Homo sapiens: one gene and its partners. The protein of the gene in region 1 purifies or fractionates together with the protein of each later gene. This does not show direct contact. Each region holds a gene or a part of one and is shown in the gene's direction. Other genes may lie near its edges. The genes, in order: UBE2U, HRG, SAA4, GC, SERPINF2, PON1 and ITIH4.

Evidence for each region.
Region 2: the proteins of UBE2U (region 1) and HRG purify together in Homo sapiens (affinity purification with mass spectrometry; one large-scale study listed by BioGRID and IntAct). This does not show direct contact.
Region 3: the proteins of UBE2U (region 1) and SAA4 purify together in Homo sapiens (affinity purification with mass spectrometry; one large-scale study listed by BioGRID and IntAct). This does not show direct contact.
Region 4: the proteins of UBE2U (region 1) and GC purify together in Homo sapiens (affinity purification with mass spectrometry; one large-scale study listed by BioGRID and IntAct). This does not show direct contact.
Region 5: the proteins of UBE2U (region 1) and SERPINF2 purify together in Homo sapiens (affinity purification with mass spectrometry; one large-scale study listed by BioGRID and IntAct). This does not show direct contact.
Region 6: the proteins of UBE2U (region 1) and PON1 purify together in Homo sapiens (affinity purification with mass spectrometry; one large-scale study listed by BioGRID and IntAct). This does not show direct contact.
Region 7: the proteins of UBE2U (region 1) and ITIH4 purify together in Homo sapiens (affinity purification with mass spectrometry; one large-scale study listed by BioGRID and IntAct). This does not show direct contact.

Annotation. Positions count from the first base shown.
Region 1 is NC_000001.11:64,265,246-64,267,868, forward strand, and holds the end of UBE2U (ubiquitin-conjugating enzyme E2 U), read left to right. Parts: intron 1-1,778; coding exon 1,779-1,963; 3' UTR 1,964-2,123; downstream 2,124-2,623. UniProt on the Homo sapiens protein: Catalyzes the covalent attachment of ubiquitin to other proteins.
Region 2 is NC_000003.12:186,669,014-186,672,513, forward strand, and holds part of HRG (histidine-rich glycoprotein precursor), read left to right. Parts: coding exon 1-38; intron 39-924; coding exon 925-1,015; intron 1,016-2,609; coding exon 2,610-2,776; intron 2,777-3,500. UniProt on the Homo sapiens protein: Plasma glycoprotein that binds a number of ligands such as heme, heparin, heparan sulfate, thrombospondin, plasminogen, and divalent metal ions. Binds heparin and heparin/glycosaminoglycans in a zinc-dependent manner.
Region 3 is NC_000011.10:18,234,003-18,238,069, reverse strand, and holds the start of SAA4 (serum amyloid A-4 protein precursor), read left to right. Parts: upstream 1-1,267; 5' UTR 1,268-1,353; intron 1,354-2,139; coding exon of another isoform or gene 2,140-2,143; coding exon 2,144-2,234; intron 2,235-4,067. Other genes in the region: SAA2-SAA4 protein precursor, read left to right, coding at 2,140-2,234. UniProt on the Homo sapiens protein: Major acute phase reactant.
Region 4 is NC_000004.12:71,743,639-71,746,079, reverse strand, and holds part of GC (vitamin D-binding protein isoform 1 precursor), read left to right. Parts: intron 1-2,441. UniProt on the Homo sapiens protein: Involved in vitamin D transport and storage, scavenging of extracellular G-actin, enhancement of the chemotactic activity of C5 alpha for neutrophils in inflammation and macrophage activation.
Region 5 is NC_000017.11:1,752,871-1,755,765, forward strand, and holds the end of SERPINF2 (alpha-2-antiplasmin isoform a precursor), read left to right. Parts: intron 1-1,251; coding exon 1,252-1,664; 3' UTR 1,665-2,395; downstream 2,396-2,895.
Region 6 is NC_000007.14:95,307,533-95,311,032, reverse strand, and holds part of PON1 (serum paraoxonase/arylesterase 1), read left to right. Parts: intron 1-2,821; coding exon 2,822-3,022; intron 3,023-3,500. UniProt on the Homo sapiens protein: Hydrolyzes the toxic metabolites of a variety of organophosphorus insecticides. Capable of hydrolyzing a broad spectrum of organophosphate substrates and lactones, and a number of aromatic carboxylic acid esters.
Region 7 is NC_000003.12:52,824,173-52,827,672, reverse strand, and holds part of ITIH4 (inter-alpha-trypsin inhibitor heavy chain H4 isoform 1 precursor), read left to right. Parts: intron 1-475; coding exon 476-580; intron 581-719; coding exon 720-882; intron 883-1,021; coding exon 1,022-1,132; intron 1,133-1,658; coding exon 1,659-1,787; intron 1,788-2,358; exon of another isoform or gene 2,359-2,468; intron 2,469-2,714; coding exon 2,715-2,831; intron 2,832-3,107; coding exon 3,108-3,276; intron 3,277-3,335; exon of another isoform or gene 3,336-3,357; coding exon 3,358-3,483; exon of another isoform or gene 3,484-3,500. UniProt on the Homo sapiens protein: Type II acute-phase protein (APP) involved in inflammatory responses to trauma. May also play a role in liver development or regeneration.

The DNA of each region.
Region 1 (2,623 bases):
CTTGCTCTCCACTCTGGCTTTTCTCTTATGTGAGATAAAACACTCTCCTATTGTTTAAACTGGGTTGACTTGGCTTTATATTTCTTGTAATCAAAAGCATGTGGAGTCAGAAAGGCCCAAGCATGGTTAGAAAGAACTGGAGTTAGTCCATCAATAATATGTTCATGGAAAATAAATAGATGCTTTTCTCAAGGCACAGACAGAATTTAGTTTTAAATTAATTACAACTAAATATTAGTACCGAAAGTACAAAAAATTAAAAATCACTGTGGGCCTCAGGATAACCATAGGATAATGGTGACTGTGTAAACTCACATCTCTCTGTGTATCTTTCTCTCTTTGTTTTGTTTTGAGAGGGAGTCTCACTCTGTCACCCAGGCTGGAGTGCAGTGGGTCAATCTCAGCTCACTGCAACCTCTGCCTTCCGGGTTCAAGTGAGTCTCCTGCCTCAGCCTCCAGAGCAGCTGAGATTACAGGCTCCTGCCACCACACCCGGCTAATTTTTGTATTTTAGTAGAGACAGGGTTTCACCATGTTGGGCAGGCTGGTCTCGAACCCGTGACCTCAAGGGATCCACCTGCCTTGGCTTCCCAAAATGCTGGGATTACAGGTGTAAGCCACCATGCCCGGTCTGTCTGTGTATCTTTCTATAAACCAAAGACAGAAGGAAAACAAGTCACTTGTAGCCCATGTCTATAACATTAGAAGACAGCAAATATTACAGGGTTTATTTCATGTGTGAGGGAAATAAACATATGAGGCAAACAAAATTTGTCCTGGAACCCATAATCAGCAGTGAATCCGGTGACAACTAGGAAAAAGGGAAGAGAATGCAGTGAGATTTTAGAGTTAACAGAACATAAATAGTACCAGCTAGAGTTCATCCCCAGAAAGCAAGGTCCCCATGCTGTGTAGAAATATACATCTAGAAATATAGACATTATATCTATATTCTCCTTTTGAAAAGTATAATCAGTTTATTTCCCTGTTTACAAGGCCTATAAGATAAAGATGAAAGTCCTTTGCATGACATATGAGGCTTTCCTGATCTGGCTTCAGCCTCCCTTCCAGCTCCACGAAACTTTCTGTATACTATAACATTGTGTTTTTGGATAGACAGATCTGGGACGAGTCTTGTTATTAGCTGGATATCTTTGATCAAGTTACTATAGGTTGCTCAGCCTCAGTTTCCTCATCTGTAAAATAAGAATAATAATACCTGCCCATCACAAGGGTTGTGTCTGAGTTAAATAATATTATAGCTGTCGACGGGTTAGCACCGCACCTGGCACAGTGGAAGCGCGGGAGAATCCATTCTGATCACCCCTAACCCTGTCAAGTCCTCTCATACCTTTGTGCTTATACGATGTGTGCTGTTTCTTCTATCTAACATGTTCTGACCTCCCTTCTCTGTCTAACAAACTGGTCTTCCTGTTTCAAAGTCCGACTCAGTTTTCACTTAGACACAGTGATTCCCTCCCTGTGCTCCCAAAGCAGCTTTTCCCTTGCACATCAACTGGCCCTTAGCAGAGACCCAGTAAATATATATGCTAAATGAATGAACTAACAAAGCATCAAAAGATTGAGCAAAATGGAAAGAATGATTTTTGACAAATAAAGTTACTTACAAAACATGAAGTTTAGAAAGTGTATAAAAGGTTGCTCACATTCATTCAGATGGTCTTTGGCATTATCCTACAAATGCAGGAACACTTCTCTTTTTATTGTTTTTCTTATTATGTCTATTAAATTTCTATTTTTTATAATTCCCACCACAGATGAAATTTTTCTTGAGTCACCAACTGCAATAAATAGCATCACAGACATTTATGAAACAGAAGAGGAGGGGTGGAAGAGTGACACTTCATTATATGAAAATGACACAGATGAGCCCAGGGAAGAGGAAGTGGAAGATCTGATCTCCTGGACCAATACTCTCAATACAAATACTTCAGAAGATTAAGCAGAACATTATCAGATTCAAAAAATAAACAGCCTCCGCCATAGCCCAGCGTTGTGGAGCAATTTTGGAAGACTCTCAGAACTTGGATTTCATTTTTTTTAAGTTGTTCTCACCCACTCACTGCAAGTACAAATTAGAAATATAAGTACAAATCAGTAAAGATGTTGCTTTGACTTTTTTGAGTGCTACTCCTTTAGAACAAAGTTACCAAAGTTAGGGGTGTTCATTGCCATATGCCAATCAATGGTGTCACACTCCCACAGTTGTTAGGCTACTGGACACAAGTTTTTGCAGGCAGAGAATGGGTCAGAAAGAGGTTGGGATAGGAGGGGAGCAATTAAAAGCTTCAGAGGCTGGACATGACCCCAAGTAGCGGGATCTATACATGGACCTACATCTGCCTAGTTTCTTGTCTTGTTTCCTCCATATTCAAGGAATGAGATGTCGCTATTTACTAATGTTTCTCTTCTGTTTTATCCCAGAGTACGTGCCATTTTCTCTTAAACCTTGACCTATCTCCTCGTATTCTTATAACTTTATTTTCTCTGTCTCTTTTTGCCATATTGTCTCAACCTACACATGTGCTTTGGTCTCTCCTATTCTAAAATATGTCTCTGCCTTTGACCCCCAACTCTGCTTGCCTCACCAGTATTCACTCAT
Region 2 (3,500 bases), on another chromosome or scaffold:
ACTGTGAGCCACCTGATTCCAGACGTCCATCTGAAATAGTAAGTAAAGAGGGCACCTTCACTCTGCTCTTTTCATTCTTATTTTCCATCTACTCTGTTCACTCAGCCAATGCCTGGGCTAACACAGTAGAAGAGAAAGGGCAGCTTTTGCCTTGAGATTCATGAAGATGATGTTAACCTTGAGCAATACTCTTGAGAGTCTTTCCTGGGAACCCAGTTCAAGACAACTCAGCAGGGTGTGTGGTCCCATCAAAGAGCATAACCAGCTGTGGGTCCTTGGGTAAATCATCTAATAACATCCCTCCACTTTGGTGTTTTTTGACTGTAAAATAAGAAGTGGGTTTAGGAATTCATGGACTCTAAGGGCCTTCCACTCTTGACAGTCTACAGGTATCAGAATCTATGAACTTGTAATTGTGTCCTATGAACAATGGTCCTATTTTCAGGAATGGCCAAAGTAATTACTTGCAGTGAGGAATTGGGTCTTGCTCAGCACCTAGGATATACACTGAGGAATAAGATCTGGCTTTGCATGTGGGAGGTGGGTATTGACATGCCAGGCTCTCTGACACAGGTGGAGAACATGAAGATGAATAAGCAGAGATTCAAGATTTCATTTCCAGAAAATGAGAGGTTCACACTCCTGGAACTTTCACCACTTTTTCCCTTGAAAATGTTTGGGGTATGGCCATGATGCTTTAAATAGTTTCTCGCTGGTTCTCCTGAGGATTTTGAGTGCCAACAGGATGCAGCACACAGAAACTGACTAAGAAAATGCAGGGTTTGAGACAAGCTTTGATGAAAGAAATGCATTTTTAAATGAACAGTAGGAGGATGTTGCATCACCTTTTTGCTCTTTCATATCTGACCTGAGGAAGGCAGGATGCAATGACTCAGCAAGTCCTCAAGAGCCTCTTTCTTACAGGTGATCGGACAATGTAAGGTAATAGCTACAAGACATTCCCATGAATCTCAGGACCTCAGAGTGATTGACTTTAACTGCACCACAAGTTCTGGTATGGTAATCTGTTAAATTGCTAATTAATTCTTGATTAATACAAATTCAATCATACAGTGGTATTTGTCTCATCTATGTACATATGTATTCATATATATTCAGATGTATTCATGTATATCTATGATGTACATGAAAGAAAAGCCTTCATAGACTCCATTATTATTCATTCTCCAGAGAATAGAATTGAGACAAATTTCCCTGGTACTGGTACACCTTCTTTTAAAGAAATTCAACACATAAAAATAGAGATTTAGGAGAGGTAGGTTAGCCTCATTATAGATATAGGCTTTGGAGTCAGGCTTGCTTTAGCTTGAGTCATCATCTGCCAGTTGTATAGTCTTGGGAGGAAGTAAAGTCTTGGGACTATGAAGTAAAGGTTATGACACTTTCTATTTAAGACAAAATAATTGATGCTCAAAGAAGTTAAATGACTTGGCCTCAAGAACAAAGCCAAGATATTGTGAAGATGTGACACAATCCCAGGAGTATTAACTCTAAATTCCACAGCTTTTTTATTTATTTATTTTTATTTTTGAGACAGAGTGTCGCTCTTGCTACCCAGGCTGGAGTGCAATAGTGTGATCTCGGGTCACTGCAACCTCCACCTCCCGGGTTCAAGCAATTCTCCTGTCTCAGCCTCCCAAGTAGCTAGGATTACAGGCATATGCCACCACATCCAACAAATTTTGTATTTTTAGTAGAGATGGAGTTTCTCCATGTTGGTCAGGCTGGCCTCAAACTCTTGACCTCAGGTGATCTGCCCACCTTGACCTCCCAAAGTGCTGGGATTACAGGTGTGAGCCACCACGCCCAGCCTCCATACCCTTTTAATTTACATTTTCAAATAGAATTATCACAGGATTCCTTTTTAAAATAGCAAATCCAAATATGATATTATATACAAAAATGCAAGATACTGCCACAGGAGTTTGCATTGAAGAAAGGATGATCTGTATCTTCTCCTCTCTCTGGGCAAAACTCTATGTTAATGCTCTGTCTTCCCCCTTGGCAACAACAGGAAGAACTTATTAAAATATTAGTGGCCTGGTGCGGTGGCTCACATCTATAATCCCAGCACTTTGGGAGGTTGAGGCCAGAGGGTTGCTTGAGCCCAGGAGTTTGAGACTAGCCTGGGCAATGTGACTCAACCCCATCTCTATTATTTAATATATATGTTAATATATATATCATATTAATACCTAAATATATGATTATATAATATAAAAACATATGATATATTATATAATATATAAATATATAATAGATATTATATAATAGATAATATATATTTATATATTAACGAATGTCATAGTTGTCATATTTATATATATATGTTAGCACTTTATCAGTGGTACTGGTGAAGGCATCATGAGTAGGGGTCACAACATAGACATGGGGATCAGAAAGACTCGAAGGAAGAATCAGCAGTTTAGTTCGGTTGCCAAATGGCTGATTGATCTTGAAGCAGTTACTCAGCTCTTCCCACCCTCAATTTGCCCATCCTTAAAATGAAAGTTATTGTCATTCTTGCCACCAAGCCACCATTAACATTTCCAGCCCTTTACTGTGACACTGCTATCTTCTTTCTCCAGTCTCTTCAGCACTGGCCAATACCAAAGATAGTCCGGTCCTCATAGATTTCTTTGAGGATACTGAGCGCTACAGAAAACAAGCCAACAAAGCCCTTGAGAAGTACAAAGAGGAGAATGATGACTTTGCCTCTTTCAGAGTGGACCGAATCGAGAGAGTTGCAAGAGTGGTGAGTCTCCACTAAGGTTCGGTTGGAGTCTGAAGGCCCAGGCTCCAACCTGGCAGCAGGAACTGAATGGCATACCCTCTCCACCTGCCTCAATTGACTAGCTGCCTTTTAATTTGTCACTTTTGAGGCCATAAAAGACAGGCAGCAGGTATTTAAAAAATACAAAAAAATTGCTTTCCTCAAACACTTTTTTTTTTTTTTGAAGGATGGGTAGGGGAGTAGACATCTGACAGAGTAGGGAGAAAATCTAAAGAGGAAACAGGGAAAGACAAGAACATATGAGGGTTGTGTCATTGCAAATCATCCAATACTAACATTCTTGTACTATGATGGAAAACTGAAGTTCAGAGAAATTACCTCACCACACCCAGTAATGTGCCTATAGTTAGATGGTTCCCTGCTCTCTCTACAAGGACCCAAGTACTTTCACCCAGAGCTGTCTTGTAGAGCAACTGGTTGACATTTGCTATGCATTCAGAAAATGCAGCGTTAAATAGATTGTGTTGCATACAAGTAAGGAAATGAGTACCATGCAGTTGCTCAAAGAATGTTTGGACCCATGCGCACTGGAGTTTGAAAACATATTGGTATAGGAAAATGCAGGTTATAGAACAGTACTTAGACTATGGACCCATTTATATGAAACACTTAGATCTCCCTGTGTATGTGTAACACATCTAGGAAAACACTCGAAGAGGAAACACATCAAATAAATGAGAATGAA
Region 3 (4,067 bases), on another chromosome or scaffold:
ATACTGTGTGAGAGACAATGTGGAACCAAGTTCTTTCACTCATTTCTGGTGGGAGTAGAGATTGATACAGCCCTCATGGAAGGCAATTTGCAACATATAAAAATTTATAAAATCTAGGGCCAGGGACGTTGGCTCATGCCTGTAATCCTAGCACTTTGGGAAGCCGAGGTGGGCAGATCATTTGAGGTAAGTGGGTCGAGACTAGCCTGGCCAACATGGCGAAATCCCGTCTCTCTTAAAAATAGAAAAATTAGCCTGATGTGGTGGCATGTGCCTATAATCCCAGCTACTCAAGAGGCCGAGGCAGGGGAATCTCTTGAACCCCGGAGGTGGAGGTTGCAGTGAGCTGAGATCATGCCACTGCACTCCAGCCTGGGGGACAGAGTGAGACTCTGTCTCAAACAAACAAACAAAAAATTTATAAAATCTGATACTTTTTCACCATGGAGTTTCTTCTGTAGGAATTTATCCTAGAGATATATTTGTACATGTGCAAGAGACATATGTACAAGGTTAATAAATGCACCATTATTTGTAATATCAAAAGGTTAATAACTGTCAAAACAGCCATTAATATTGTATAAATTATGGTCCATCCATGCAATGGAATACTGTGTAGCTGTAAAAAAAAAAAAAAAAAAAGCAACAAGCCCGACATGGAAAGACTTCCAATAAATAGTAAGTTTAAAAGAAAGTGCAGAATAATACATATTTATATGAAAAAAGAGTTTTTATGCCTCAAAGGCCTTCACCCTTGATCTTCTGGTGTTATTCCTGTCCTTGTATTCTCCCAGAATCATTACCTCATCCCATGAATGGTACAGTCAAGTCTTGCTTGTTCTGTGTCCTTACATTCTTTAGAGAGAAGTCACAAGAGACAAGCAAACATCTCTTTTGCTAATAATATTGATCACTTCCTACAGCATAATATCTATGTGCAATTTTTTGGGAAGACCTCCTACTAAACAGTTAAGAATGGAAAGACACAAAGAGAAGAAAGTGGAGAAAGACCTCTGTCTTCCCACACTGGATTTTGCAAATACAACTCTTCTGTGATACAGGAAACTAAAAAGAGGGAAAAGTGGCAATTAAGAAAAACTGCCAGAAAATAAATACCTTGATGACCCAATTTGGAAAACTACTTCTAGATAAGGAAACACTATTACCCAATATGTTAATTTTTAAAATACCCAAAGAATTGAGCAAAAAGGACTTTGGCAAGGCAGGTTGTTGGATTTAAAACCGTTCTCCCATTAATGCCAAAGCCAGCAGAGGTACCAACTATAGCTCCACGGCCAGAAGATACCAGCAGCTCTGCCTTTACTGAAATTTCATCTGGAGAAAGGTCCACAGGTGAGGTTTCTTCCAAGGAGTAATTTCTCTTATTTGACTCTTTTGAGATCCTTTTCTCACATAATTGTCAAATTTCAATTGGAGAGAAACTGTGTTTTCTACCTCATTACGGGGTCAGTGCTGAGGAGAGTAGGAACTCAGGAAATGCTTCTTGATTGACTTTAGTCTGCTGTATTGGGTGACAAATTGACCACAGACCAAATAACACGTTGGAATCCTCTTATTCTTTCTAGAGATCTGGGCTGAGAATTAAGGGTTTATGCTTCTTCTTAAAACCCGTTTCAATCTTTCATGCAGTTATGATTCTCATACAAACAAATGGAAATGGGGAATTAGTCTTTCAAATTCAGTCCTTTGGCTGGCACAGTGGCTCATGCCTGTAATCCTTTGGGAGGTTGAGGTAGGAAGATTGCTTGAGGCCAGGAGTTCGAGACTAGCCTGGGCCGAACATACATACCAAGACCTTGTCTCTACCAAAAAAAAAAAAAAAAAAATTAGCTGAGTGTGATGGTGCACGTTTGTAGTCCTTAATACTCAGGAGGCTGAGGTGGGAGGATCACTTGAGCCCAGAAGGTCGAGGCTGCAGTAAGCCTTAATCATATCATTGCACTTTAGCCTGGGCAATAGGAAAAAAAAAAGAAAGAAAGAAAGGGAGGAAAGAAAGAAAGGAAGGAGAAAGAAAGAAAAGGAAAAAAAGAAAGAAAAAAAGGAAAGAAATTCAGTCCTCAAAACATAGATCTGTGTTTTTTTTTATGATCCTCTGCCCCTGTCTTTCTTTCTCTTCAGCACAATGAGGCTTTTCACAGGCATTGTTTTCTGCTCCTTGGTCATGGGAGTCACCAGTGAAAGCTGGCGTTCGTTTTTCAAGGAGGCTCTCCAAGGTAAGAACTCTGGAGGATGGAGGGCACATACCCAGGATTCATTCTGAGCAGGGGCCACATACTCACTGGATGTGAGTGCTCCTTAGAGAAGCCACACAGAGGTCAGAGCAGGAGTGTGGTTTTCTGTATCTGTTTCTTCCTCTAGGCTGGTCTGATTTATCACCCTCCCTTGGGGTTTCCAGACGAGAGGTTAAAGATGCTTTGGGCCCAGCCTGTACTCTTGGTGTAGAGTGCAGAAGGATAAAAACTTCCAGGGGGTTATCTCCCACTGCGGAAATTTACAGATGGCAGATTTCTCAGGGCATGATGTTTATTTAGCTCATCCACCTCAGGGAATATACTGAGTTCACAATTATACTCCAAGACTGAGACATGCCTAGCAGAGAGTAGAGAAATCCCATCCTGTACCCAAGCAAATGGCCAATGCTTGGGATGCAGAGCTTATGAAAATTAAGCCCTAACTTCTATCCATAAATAAAAAGAGCAAATTTCTACTGATTAGCCACAGGAGGGCTGAGATACGGCTGGGAAACTGACTTCTGCCATTCTGGATGGGAAACGAATCTTATTGACTAGCTGTTAAAATGGGAAAACTATGTTTGTCAGGTTATGCAATACTTTGAACTTCATGTGTTGTTATTAATTTTGTAGTTGAATTTTTTGTAATTTTTCAATTGAAATTTTATAAATTTTCATTTTTTCTGCATTTTGTGCTTTTAAAAATGATATTCTATAAATAGTTTTTAAAAAGTTTTGGTAGCATGTACTAAGTTTTTCTGCACATAGTAGAGAATATCTTTTCCCTTAGGTCAGTGTATTTCAGAATTTGTTGTATGGTCCACCAGCATTTAAATCGGCCGGTGTTTGTTTTAAAAGTACACTCTGAAGCCTCTTCTCATAGTTACTGAGTCAGAATCTTAGAAGTGAAGTGGGACTAGGAATAGCATTTGAAAAACTCCCCAGGTTACTTTAAGCACAATGCCAATGAGAACAACTGTCTTGGGTTTTTCTGTCACCCAGTGACAGAATCTGTCAGATGCTTGGAGAAAACTCTTGCTAGTAGATCTGGAAAACATAGAATGAACATAAAGCATGCATCAGAGAAAGGACAGTCATGCCATGCCAGAGATAAACTATTTGACAAAATTACAGACACAAAATAATACATGAAGTTAGTGAGAAATATCCCTTAGAACACAGTACCTAAGTAACAATTAAAACTATTTATCACAGCTTTTCTTTTTTCCAAGTGAGTTGGTTTAAAGAACTTGGTAACACGTAAACCACAGCAGAACTCAAAAATATTTATTGATTGAACAACACAGGCACTGATAGACATTTTCTATAGCTCTTCCTGGCTTAGACCTGTTTCAAACATCTATTTTTCCACTAATCTTTTTAAAAACTTTAAAATGATATATAACTTACATATAGTACACAGTATAGCTTGATGAGGTTTTTACACATACAAACATCCATATTACACCATCAGATCAAGATGTCAAACATTTCACACACCCCGGATGGGTCTCTCATGCCCTCTTCCAGTTAACAACCCTCACGAAAGGTAACTCCTATTCTTACCTCTATCATTGTTGATTAGTGTCCCTGTGTTTGATCTTTGAATAAAAGAAATCATACAGAATATGTCTTTTGTATCCGGCTTTGTTTCACTCAACATTACGACATACTAATATACATGACAGCATTTGTCATGTGTATTAATATTTTGTTCTTTTTCATTGCTACATAGTATTCCATTGTATACTGATATCACAATTTATCCTACATTATTGGATAATTAGGCTTTTTAAAGTTTTATGCTATCATGGC
Region 4 (2,441 bases), on another chromosome or scaffold:
GGAAGGAGACTTTAATAAATTTATTCTTATCTGTTCAAACTCATTTTACAGATGAGAATATTAAGCACCGAGAAAAGTTAAAGAGCTTACACTTATACAAGAGCAGCCAATTTCTGATATATGTAAGACTAGAATCCAGGTTTACTGGTCCCCTGCCTTGTGCTTCATCCATCATAATCTCACATGTAACATAATGATACCGTAAAGAACATTTAAAGGATTCTGATGCACTTCAATAGGAAGAACTCTGAGTTTAAAGACAGGGCTCATCAAGTCTTAAAAATAACACAGCAAGGACCTTAGGAGGAAAGGGACATTCTTATTCAAATGAAAACAATACTGTTGAAATATTATTACTTGCTTTTTTCAGTCACTATATTTTCACCTATTAAAAAATGCCAGATGAAGATATTAAGAACATAAAATAGTTTATTCCAACGTAAGTTCACATCTTAAACTGAAGAGCACCCCCGCCGAACTCTGCACATTTCAACAACAATATTTTCTCTCCAGATTCAATTGTATTTATGCTAAAGAAATTACACCTGAGACTTTTGATGCAAACTTGTTTGGATCTCAGTTCTTAGCTGAACTGAGGCTTTTCAATAATGTCAACGTTTATTTTGCTGACTTACTGACAACTCTGCCCAAAATAATGTGGAAACAAAAGCCTTCCAATCCATTCATTAATAACATTAAATCATTTCACCATATTCAGCTTTTCAACTATTATTTAAATCCTCTGAAGCTGTAAAAAAGAAAATTAACAGTCTGAGAACCAGTACAAGGGGGATGGTCAAGAAAACTTATATTTGAAATCACCCAACCTGAATTAGAATCCCCACTCTAACTATCTGTCTGTGAATTTGAGCAAGTTATCTATCCTGTCTAAAGATGAGTTTCCTTTCATGTAAAATGAAAATTTCCATATCTCCCTCACAGTGTTGTTACAATGATTGAGGTGATGTATATCAAATATTTAAAAAGCAGTAAAAATGAATATTAGCAGTAATACTAGCAAAGTTGTTGCACTGATGCTCCTACTACTACTGGTTGAATCTAAACTAAAAAGTTTTCCTGCCCATATATTTTTGTGCTCTGGTATACAAATATCATGTCCCAACGATAAAGTAAGTTCTCTAAATAATTTTCCAAGGAATAAAAATCAAAATGCAAGTTATTTGAAGTGTAAATATTCTAGAGTTAAAATAGTTTCTGATCTCTGTTGCTGCTAAATTATTACATCCTCCCCCCATTTGAATGAATCTTTCCTTTATCTCAATCCCCATATAATAATCTCCAAAGAGTTAAAATCCCAATATGCAACAGTGACCTCACCTCTCATCCTTCAAGATTTCTTAAGCTTTAATTAAGAGTCAGGGTTATTTGGAAAGCTATATGATAACTTTGATTTTGAATATGTTTTTCACTGGACTGTGTTATTATTCAGAACTCAGAGTGCATTTCCTTAGTGTTGTATGTTTTTAGGCTTTGGGAAAACTAATTAAAATAGGAGAAGATATCCTAAGGTAAGTAAGGAGGAAGTAATAATTTGATGGATTTCAAGAGATTTCTTTTCAGAACAAATGTCAGAAGTATCTTTTTTTTTTTTTTTTTTTTTGAGATGGAGTCTCGCTCTGTCTCCCAGGCTGGAGTGCAGTGGCGCGATCTCGGCTCGCTGCAAGCACCGCCTCCTGGGTTCACGCCATTCTCCTGCCTCAGCCTCCCGAGGAGCTGGGGCTACAGGCGCCCGCCACCACGCCCAGCTAATTTGGGTTTTTTTTTTTTTTTTTGTATTTTTAGTAGAGATGGGGTTTCACTGTGTTAGCCAGGATGGCCTCTATCTCCTGACCTCGTGATCCGCCCGCCTCGGCCTCCTGAAGTGCTGGGATTACAGGCATGAGCCACTGTGCCTGGCCCAGAAGTATTTTTGATGCTAACTCAATCAAGAGATAAACTTGGTTTGTCAGTGACAAGCTAATGAAGATTCTAATATACTGATTCTTCTGGTTCATGGTCATTATCTTCATCTGATAAGATGAAGAAATGAAATTTCTTATCATTTCTCCTGTGTTAGTCTACATTTTTCTCTGGCCTTTAATTAATCCTTTGATTTCTGTACCACTAAATTGTTTGGCTACCCAAATACATTTTGATCATCTGGATGGATTACTCACATATTCACATATTCCTTCCTAAAATTATTCACATATCCCTTCCATGGATTTTGGTAACATGCATTGAGTGTTTTGAGCTCAATTTTATCTACTGCTTGTTTATCACCATTGCATTCTGCAATGATGAAGGCCTACCAATGTTCAATTATTTCAGGAATAGTTACATGGCTTTGAAAAAGCAAATTATACCTTGTTCACAAAGTTATAGGTCTGAGGTACTTGATATCCAGAAATAATGAGACCACAACTTTACCACTTATCTTA
Region 5 (2,895 bases), on another chromosome or scaffold:
GCTGAGTCAGAGCTGTCCTGTGTCCTGCTCTTTTCCAGGGCTTCGGGAGCGGGGAGAGGGTTGAATATGAGCCCCCAGACCCTCTGTCCTAGAGGAAGTTGGGGTGGCCCGGGGAATGGGGCTCTGCTTTGCTGCCCAAGACCTCGCATTGCAAGGAGAGTCTGGGTAGAGAGCCTGGGATGGCATGTGAGCCTCGCTGGCTTCCCTGGAAGGGGAAGGAGGAGAAGCTGGGGTGTCACACTGTTAAAGAAATGCTGGGTGGAGTGGCTCATGCCTGTAATCCCAGCACGTTGGGAAGCTGAAGTGGGTGGATTGCTTGAGCCCGGGAGTCCGACACCAGCCTGTGCAACACATTGAAACTCCGTCCCTACAAAAAATACAAAAATTAGCCAGGTGTGGTGCATGCTACTGGGGAGGTTGAGGTGGGAGGCCCTCTTGACCCCAGGTGGCTGAGGCTGCAGTGAGCCATAATTGTGCCACTGCACTCCAGCCTCAGCAAAAGAACTAAGACCTTGTCTCAAAAATAAAAATAAAGGCCGGGCATGGTGGCTCACGTCTGTAATCCTAGCACTTTGGGAGGCCAAAGAGGGTGGATCACCTGAGGTCATGAGTTTGAGACCAGCCTGGCCAACATGGCCAAACCCGTCTCCACTAAAAATACAAAAATTAGCCGGGCGTGGTGGCGCATGCCCATAATCCCAGCTACTTGGGAGGCTGAGGCAGGAGAATTGCTTGAACCTGGGAGGAGGAGGTTGCAGTGAGCCGAGATCACGCCACTGTACTCCAGCCTGGATGACAGAGTGAGACTCCATCTCAAAAAAAAATTATAATAACTAAAATAAATAAATAAAGCATCTATCCTTCAGCCATTTGCTAAGCAGCTGCTGTATTCCAGGCACTGTACCAGGTACCGGGAGCCCACCATGTACAAACAGCTGAGTCTAATGGGGTGGGCAGACGAGCAATCACATACTTACTACAGCATAAGCGATAAGACAGAGAGGGCTTCTCTCCAGCTCACCTGGGAGAACACTGAAAATGTACCTTGGTTGGACTTTAGAGCTGGGGATCAGGGAAGGCTTCCTGGAGGAGGTGGTGTTTAAGCTGAGTCTTGGAAACCGGATAGGAATGAAGCAGGTATCTGTGAGTTCAAGCTGTTCCCTGGCCAGGATCTCAGACACCCTCCCAAGCAGCTCCAGGAGCCTGTGAGGCCAAGGGCAGCTCTGACCAGCCATCTCTGGCCCTGGGCAGGCCTGCAGGAGTTGTTCCAGGCCCCAGACCTGCGTGGGATCTCCGAGCAGAGCCTGGTGGTGTCCGGCGTGCAGCATCAGTCCACCCTGGAGCTCAGCGAGGTCGGCGTGGAGGCGGCGGCGGCCACCAGCATTGCCATGTCCCGCATGTCCCTGTCCTCCTTCAGCGTGAACCGCCCCTTCCTCTTCTTCATCTTCGAGGACACCACAGGCCTTCCCCTCTTCGTGGGCAGCGTGAGGAACCCCAACCCCAGTGCACCGCGGGAGCTCAAGGAACAGCAGGATTCCCCGGGCAACAAGGACTTCCTCCAGAGCCTGAAAGGCTTCCCCCGCGGAGACAAGCTTTTCGGCCCTGACTTAAAACTTGTGCCCCCCATGGAGGAGGATTACCCCCAGTTTGGCAGCCCCAAGTGAGGGGCCGTGGCTGTGGCATCCAGAGTCCCTGCCTGGACCAGCCTCTCCACTCATGTGACTCTTTCCAACCGGCTTTGTGGCACTGGGGCAGGGGCCGGGGGCAGTCTGAGAGAGGCCATTCTTTCCCAACACCTCTTGGGGAGTTTAGGGTGGGGGGGGGGCGCGGCTGGGAGGAGGGCAGGCATCGGGGAGCCGGGAGCCTGACCCTCATCTTTCTTCCAAACAGGCTCAGAGGGTGTCCTGCACCGGGGCCTGGGCAGGAGGGAGGTGCTTCTAGTTCTGCCAGGAGACAGGTTAGCTGCTCCCCACGTCAGCTGGGACACCCCGACTTTTGTTTACCAGAGAAAAAGGGAGGGGGAGAGGGCTGCCTTTGGACTTGTCCCGGGACACCTAGGCTAGGGTGGGGAGAGACGGGCCCTGGTGGTGGCTCGGGAGGCGAAGCGTTGTCCTCAGCCCCGCGTGGAACTCGTGTCTGGCACAGCCTGGCTGTGGCCTAACCTGCCGAGAGTCCATCAGCCTCCATCCTACCCCCTGTGCCTTGTCACGCCAGACTTCCCACGGCTCCTCGAGATCCCAACACTGCCAGCATTTCCCTTCCTTCCTCTCCTGTCTCCCTCCTCTGCCCGGGAGCTCAGGAACCGAGGCAGGGAAGGATCCCATGAGCTCCTTAAGGCTCTTTTGTAAGGTTTTTGTAGTGATTTTTATGCCACCTGAATAAAGAATGAATGGGCCTGGCTGGTTTGATGTCACCGTTCTGGGCATGGGTGGGGACAAGTGAGGATGGTGGGGAAGGCAGGGAGGCGGCCGCAGGGTGGACTGTGCTGAGGAACCCTGGGCCCAGCAGGGGTGGCAGCCCGCGCAGTGCCACGTTTGGCCTCTGGCCGCTCGCCAGGCATCCTCCACCCCGTGGTCCCCTCTGACCTCGCCAGCCCTCCCCCGGGACACCTCCACGCCAGCCTGGCTCTGCTCCTGGCTTCTTCTTCTCTCTATGCCTCAGGCAGCCGGCAACAGGGCGGCTCAGAACAGCGCCAGCCTCCTGGTTTGGGAGAAGAACTGGCAATTAGGGAGTTTGTGGAGCTTCTAATTACACACCAGCCCCTCTGCCAGGAGCTGGTGCCCGCCAGCCGGGGGCAGGCTGCCGGGAGTACCCAGCTCCAGCTGGAGACAGTCAGTGCCTGAGGATTTGGGGGAAGCAGGTGGGGAAACCTTGGCACAGGGCTGACACCTTCCT
Region 6 (3,500 bases), on another chromosome or scaffold:
AAGTGCATCTAAGACCTCCTTATACTGCCTCCGCTGCTGTTTGATTGCACAAAATTTATGCAATAGCAGATCTGTGGTAACACTCAATTCCCCCTAGGCACCTTGTTCATGTAACATATGGTGAAATAAAACACTCAAGAATCTCCAATCTCAGTCAACTTCCTCACATGCCCTGTGAAGATTTGGCTTGTAAGGCCAGTGATGGATTTAGGAGAACAATCCGACTCTATCTTCTGAAACATTTACCTCCAACTGATTACGATTTTCTAGAATCCCAACCTATTTTTATATAATTTATGTACAGCATTTGACTACCTCCATATCTGTAAATCTAGATTTGTACTCTTTGCAGGTACCTAGCTAAGGGCCTGGTATGTAGTGTGCACTCTGTGTTACCAGGACCCCTTCCTCTTCTTTCTTATCTGGTGGTTTGAGGATGAGGAAAATGAGATTGGAGAGAAATTGAGTTACTGGATGAAGGCCAATCAACTCACTAGTGGCCAAGTAGGAACCCCAGCTCAGGTCATCTTCTGCCCCATCAAGATGAATAAAAGTTCAGAGAACAGCTTTTGGTGGAAGAGTTTATTCGTGCATTTATTTAACAAATATATTTTGGAGAGAGAATAAGGTCACTGAGTGGAGAATGTGAGGAACACCAAGATTTAAAGTAGAGAACAGTATGTAGAATGGAGAAGCTGGGCAAATGATAACACTAATAAATGAGCTTTCTCTGTAAGTCAGGTGCTACACTAACTAATTCAAACAGATTATTTTATTGATGTTTTACAAATACCTTCTGAATTAGGTGTTATTATTATATCCATTTTGGATTTTTAAAAAGTTGAGGCCTGGACTAATTGTTAAGTTTCCCCAGATGACATCATCAGTAAATGGTGCAGCTGTGATTCTAATCCTGGTAACATGAGTTCAGAGCTGGTGCTTTAAACCTCTACAAAATAGTGAAAAAAATTATGTGTTTTAACATTTAATCTTGGAAATCTCAGATTGGTCTACGTTACCGGATTGGAGTATTTTTTTCTTGAGCCAGTTGCAAAAATATTGGTCTTAGGCAGCATTGGAGACTGAAAATAACCACGGTGCCGTAATTAACTAGAGTTCTGCTCTCTCAATCCAAGGATTAGCTGTGTGTATTTTCTTCTTTGTATTTTATGGTTTTTTATAACATTAATATTCCAATAACTAAATCTATTATAATTTAAACTTGTTATTATTCATATATCACAACTGTTATTATTGGTCATTTACTGTATGCCAGGCATGGTGTGAAGGCCTTTGCATTCATTATTTCATTGTATTCTTACTCTAGCCTTTCAAGGTATACAGAGAAAACAGAGGTTCAGAATAGTGGCTCAAAATTTAGTGACAATGCTGTGGCCCCACATTATAAGGATAGCAAGCAGTGTCAGGATGCAAATGAAGTCCATCAGATTTCAAAGCTATTACTCTATTACCCTTTAAAAATTTGTTATTTATTTACTTATTTTACTACACCTGGGGGTAGTAAATTTTCAGCAATAAAAAGCTATTGCTCTAAACCATTCCACTCTGCCCCTTTCTGTGAAAAACAGACAAATGATAGTCCAGCATACTAATTTAAGAAATTTACTTTTAAAAAAGAGAGAGTAAAATCAGATTGTAGATTTATGTCTGGAGCCCATCCAGACTAATCCTAAATTCCGAGACCTTTTTTTTTTTTTCATGTTGTAATAGTGGCTAGCATTGATTGAGGGTTTATTGAATGTCATGCTCCCTGCAAAGCACACAACAGGCATTGTCTCATTGTAATTCCCACTGCAACTCCACAAATTAAGATCCTGACCCTTAGTTTTCTACTAATGAGCTGTATGATTTTGAGAATATCATTTAACCTCTCTTTACAGATGAGAAAACTGAGGCTCTGCATGCCTGTCTAACTTGCCTGAGAGCTCAGAGCTGCGTCAGAGCTGATGCGCTGGCCATGACGCCTCTGCAATAGAGCAGAGATAATTTTCTCCCAGATCATGCCCTGGGGAACTTCCATCACCTCAATCAGCAAAGAATGACTCACTTATGTGTTCCCTATTGTATCCATTAAAGCAGAAAAATAGACTCATATATCTTACATTTTCAGTAACAGAGAATCCTAATCAGAAAGGAAAAAAAAAAAGCCATAGCATTCTATTTCTGAGCATTCTTGTTCATGGACATTTCATTCAGTTTAGAATCACGAAATCTTAAGGCTGGAAGATCAACCAGTCTATCATCCTGCTTTCACAGATAAGAAAACTGAGGTCCTGACATGTGAAAAGATTGATTTTTCTTAGATCACACAGCTAATAGTAGCAGAGCTTAAACTAAAATGCAAGTATCCAGGCTGCTGGTTCAGCATTTTTTCAATTTCTTATGGGAGTTAGTTCTATGTGAGCCCAGATATGTGAGCACATTTTTGCCCTGACAATGATTTCTGGCTTAATTTAATTTCTACTGAATTTAGTGTATTTACACACAGACACACACAGATACACACACACACACACACACACACACACACACACACGACGTAACACTATTTTAAGATACATATAATAGGATTTTTATGTTACAGTGCTATAATCACCTCCTCAGATTTCTTAGACCAATGATTGTCTAAGGATTGTATCGGCAGGACTAATTTCATATTAATTGTGTTCCATTATAGCTAGCACGAAGGCTCCATCCCACATCTTGATTTTAGGAATAGACAGTGAGGAATGCCAGTTAATAATCCTGTAATGTTCAATACCTTCACCTTATATATTATGTGTGTATGTTTTAATTGCAGTTTGAATGATATTGTTGCTGTGGGACCTGAGCACTTTTATGGCACAAATGATCACTATTTTCTTGACCCCTACTTACAATCCTGGGAGATGTATTTGGGTTTAGCGTGGTCGTATGTTGTCTACTATAGTCCAAGTGAAGTTCGAGTGGTGGCAGAAGGATTTGATTTTGCTAATGGAATCAACATTTCACCCGATGGCAAGTATGTGAACTCTCTGAAATGTAGTGGATTTACTCAGATTCTCAGGAGATATCTTGGAATATATTCTTTTTTTAAGTAATATGATACATTTTAACATGTTACCCTAGTGAGATAAAATTAGGAAAAATGTAAAATGTCTTAATTTTTCAGGGGGTGAAATTTATCAAATCAAAAATTTCATTGTGAAGGCATACTGGTTTTATTTCCTTTTTGGAAAGAAAGTACATTTTAAGAGGGGGAACTGTGATGAAGATTTGATATGTCTGAATAGCTTTGTTTTGAGTAAAGATGTGAGTGTATAATGAGTTGAATAGTATGCAGGTATAGATACGTCAGTAGTGCAGGTTTATGACAAGATGAGGAATTTGTACCAAAATGTAAATCAAGGCAATACTTCCTTCATCAAGAAAGTATTACTGTGAAAAACAAGTCAGTTTAACTAAGCAGTGTGCTTAGTGATGTATTTGATTTATAATGT
Region 7 (3,500 bases), on another chromosome or scaffold:
CCCTACGTCTGCTTCCTCCTCAGTCCTGGCCCCACACGGCTGCACGCAGGGCTGGGAACAAGTGTGACTCAGAGAGCTCTTGCTGGTGATGAACTAGTTCCCCTGGAACAGTCCGTGAAATGGAAGGGGCAGGTGGGAATGTGGGCCAGCTTCGGCCAGACTGGACAGGTGGAGAGAAGGCAGGATTTAGCCCGGCCCTGCCCCTCTGCAGCCTCCCCTTCGTCCCTTCTATAAAATGAATGCTTACTGTTACTGTACACACCTCCGGGAGCTAGAGGCCTGGAGCACTTTGCAGAGTGCCCTGCACAGGGTCCTGTATGCGGTAGGTGCATAATAAATGGCACTGGGCTCAGGCAAAGATGGGAGTCACTGTGTCAAGAGGCACACCGAGTCCAGAAAGGCTCTCTGGAGGAGGCAGGAGTGGAATGGGCCCCTGCCACCAGGCTCTCAACAACTCCCACCCTTCTGCCCCCAGGATCATCGATGGCATGACCTACCCAGGGATCATCAAGGAGAAGGCTGAAGCCCAGGCACAGTACAGCGCAGCAGTGGCCAAGGGAAAGAGCGCTGGCCTCGTCAAGTGAGCTGGTGGGGGGCAGCTTCAGTGGGGAGGGTCTAGACAAAGGCCACCTTGCCTTTGGCCCTTAGTCCTGCTCCCACCTCTACCAGCCTTACCCCACCTGTCCTGGAGGAGCAGGCCTGATGCCCTTCTCCCCCAGGGCCACCGGGAGAAACATGGAGCAGTTCCAGGTGTCGGTCAGTGTGGCTCCCAATGCCAAGATCACCTTTGAGCTGGTCTATGAGGAGCTGCTCAAGCGGCGTTTGGGGGTGTACGAGCTGCTGCTGAAAGTGCGGCCCCAGCAGCTGGTCAAGCACCTGCAGGTACCTGCTGCTACCTCTTCCAGGGAGGCCTCCTGCATGACCCTTGCCCTGCTGAGGGCGGCCCCTCTTTGTCCCTGAGCCTCCTGTGAGCCCCAGCCCAGGCTCCTGGCTGACCCAGGGACCCACATCTTGCCTCCAGATGGACATTCACATCTTCGAGCCCCAGGGCATCAGCTTTCTGGAGACAGAGAGCACCTTCATGACCAACCAGCTGGTAGACGCCCTCACCACCTGGCAGAATAAGACCAAGGTGGGCCTGTTGTGGTCAGCAGGTGAGGGTACCAAGGGCCCTGCCTTCAGGCCAGCCCTATGAGCCCGGATTTCTGGAAAGCAGGATGGGCTCTCCCTCCTGTGAGCTGTGACCTGGAGAGGCTCCTGAGATCTCTGCATCCTTGCTGTCATTTGGCAGATGGGGAGGGCAAAGCCTAGAGAAGGACCATGGCGTCCTCGTATGAGCCCTGAGATCTGTCTGGGAAGGGGCTGGATAATAGACTGATGTGAGGGTCCTGGGGCCAGGTGGAGAGAAGGAGATGGTTGGATGGCACACATCCTGGAATAGCCTCTGCTTGCGCAGCTCCAGGAACAGGGAGCTCATCACACCCCTCCCCTACGTGAAAGTGGTCCATCAATAACTCAGCCTGAAAGAAAGTGCCCTGGAATACGGACCCAAGGCTGCATCCTGGAATTCTGATTTCCCAATATACAGACAGGGGTAGAGGGTGTTGTTGGCCTGGCTTTGCTGTTCCTCCCAACTTCAGCCCGGATTATTCCTCCAGGCTCACATCCGGTTCAAGCCAACACTTTCCCAGCAGCAAAAGTCCCCAGAGCAGCAAGAAACAGTCCTGGACGGCAACCTCATTATCCGCTATGATGTGGACCGGGCCATCTCCGGGGGCTCCATTCAGGTGGGTGGACTTCAGGCAAGAGCAGAGCAGCCTAGAAGTCTGTCCACCCCCAAGGGCCTGAGCTTGGGTATTTTAGAACAGGAAAAGAACCACCCTTACTTAGCAGTGTGCACCAGGGACCGGCACAGACAGAAAACACGTGATTTAGTTGTGTTGTCCCTGAAACTATTCCCTTTCCCAGGCAGAAAAGGTTTGTCTCTGAGAAGAGCTGCCCTGTGGGGTTTCCCTCTTTGCCTCTGCTGCTGGGAGGCTCACAACTCAGTTTTATGCAGATTTGCAGTAGTTTCTTTCACACTAGTTTCTGGCATTATTATTGTTGTTATATTTTGGTATGATCATGGCTCACTGCACCGTCAAACTCCCAGGTTCAAAAGAAACTCCTGCCTCGGCCTCCCTAGTAGCTGGGACTACAGGCGTGCACCACCACACCTGGCTAATTTTTTTTTTTTTTTTTCCAGTAGAGACAAGGTTGCCCAGGCTGGTCTTGAATTCCTGGGCTCAAGTGATCCTCCCACCTAAGCCTCCCAAAGTGCTGGAATTACAGGCGTGATTCACCACACCCAGCCATTTCTGCCATTGTTATTATACTTCCCTTTTACTCCATGTTTTTGAAGTCTTCCCTCTTTTGATGGTTGTCAGGTTTATGATGTCTGAACTTTTTAGTATAAACCATCTGAAATACTAAAACAAATAGAAGGAAAAGTTGCAGGGAGAGTTCTGGTGGGCTATGCATGAGCAGGGAAGGCTTCCGCAAGAAAGGGGCTGGTCTGAGCCCTGAAAAAGGGCAAGGTTTTGGGGAGGTTAGCAGTGGGATGGAAATGGGATTGGAACAGAGCACAGAAACCCAGAATTTGGGGTAAAGGGGCTGAATGGGGATAGGGCCAATTGTAGCTCTGATGGCCTGGGTGGGTCTCACTCTGGCCACAGATCGAGAACGGCTACTTTGTACACTACTTTGCCCCCGAGGGCCTAACCACAATGCCCAAGAATGTGGTCTTTGTCATTGACAAGAGCGGCTCCATGAGTGGCAGGAAAATCCAGCAGGTAGGTCCTGTGGCCCAGGGCAGGGCCCTGAAAACTCCCAGGCCCTTCACGCTATCAGCTGTGGTCCGGCAGGCAGACCCCCTTGCTTCACCTTTCGGCACCATGGGGCGGGTGGCTCTCAGGAACCAAGGTTGGCCAGAGCCTAGGGCAGCCCCTGTTCCTAGAGCAGATACCATGACCTCACCCCTGAGACAGGAGTCCAAGGATGCCAGCCCTAGGGCACACGAGCCCTCAGGGAGCCCTTCTGAAGCACCTATGTTTCCTCTCCCTGACCAGACCCGGGAAGCCCTAATCAAGATCCTGGATGACCTCAGCCCCAGAGACCAGTTCAACCTCATCGTCTTCAGTACAGAAGCAACTCAGTGGAGGCCATCACTGGTGCCAGCCTCAGCCGAGAACGTGAACAAGGCCAGGAGCTTTGCTGCGGGCATCCAGGCCCTGGGAGGTAAGTGTCTCTGTGGCCCTGCAGGGTGGGGGCTTCCAGGGCTCCTGGCTGGGGACCACCTTGAGAGTGCGTGTTCCTCAGGGACCAACATCAATGATGCAATGCTGATGGCTGTGCAGTTGCTGGACAGCAGCAACCAGGAGGAGCGGCTGCCCGAAGGGAGTGTCTCACTCATCATCCTGCTCACCGATGGCGACCCCACTGTGGGTGAGGGCCCTGCCCGT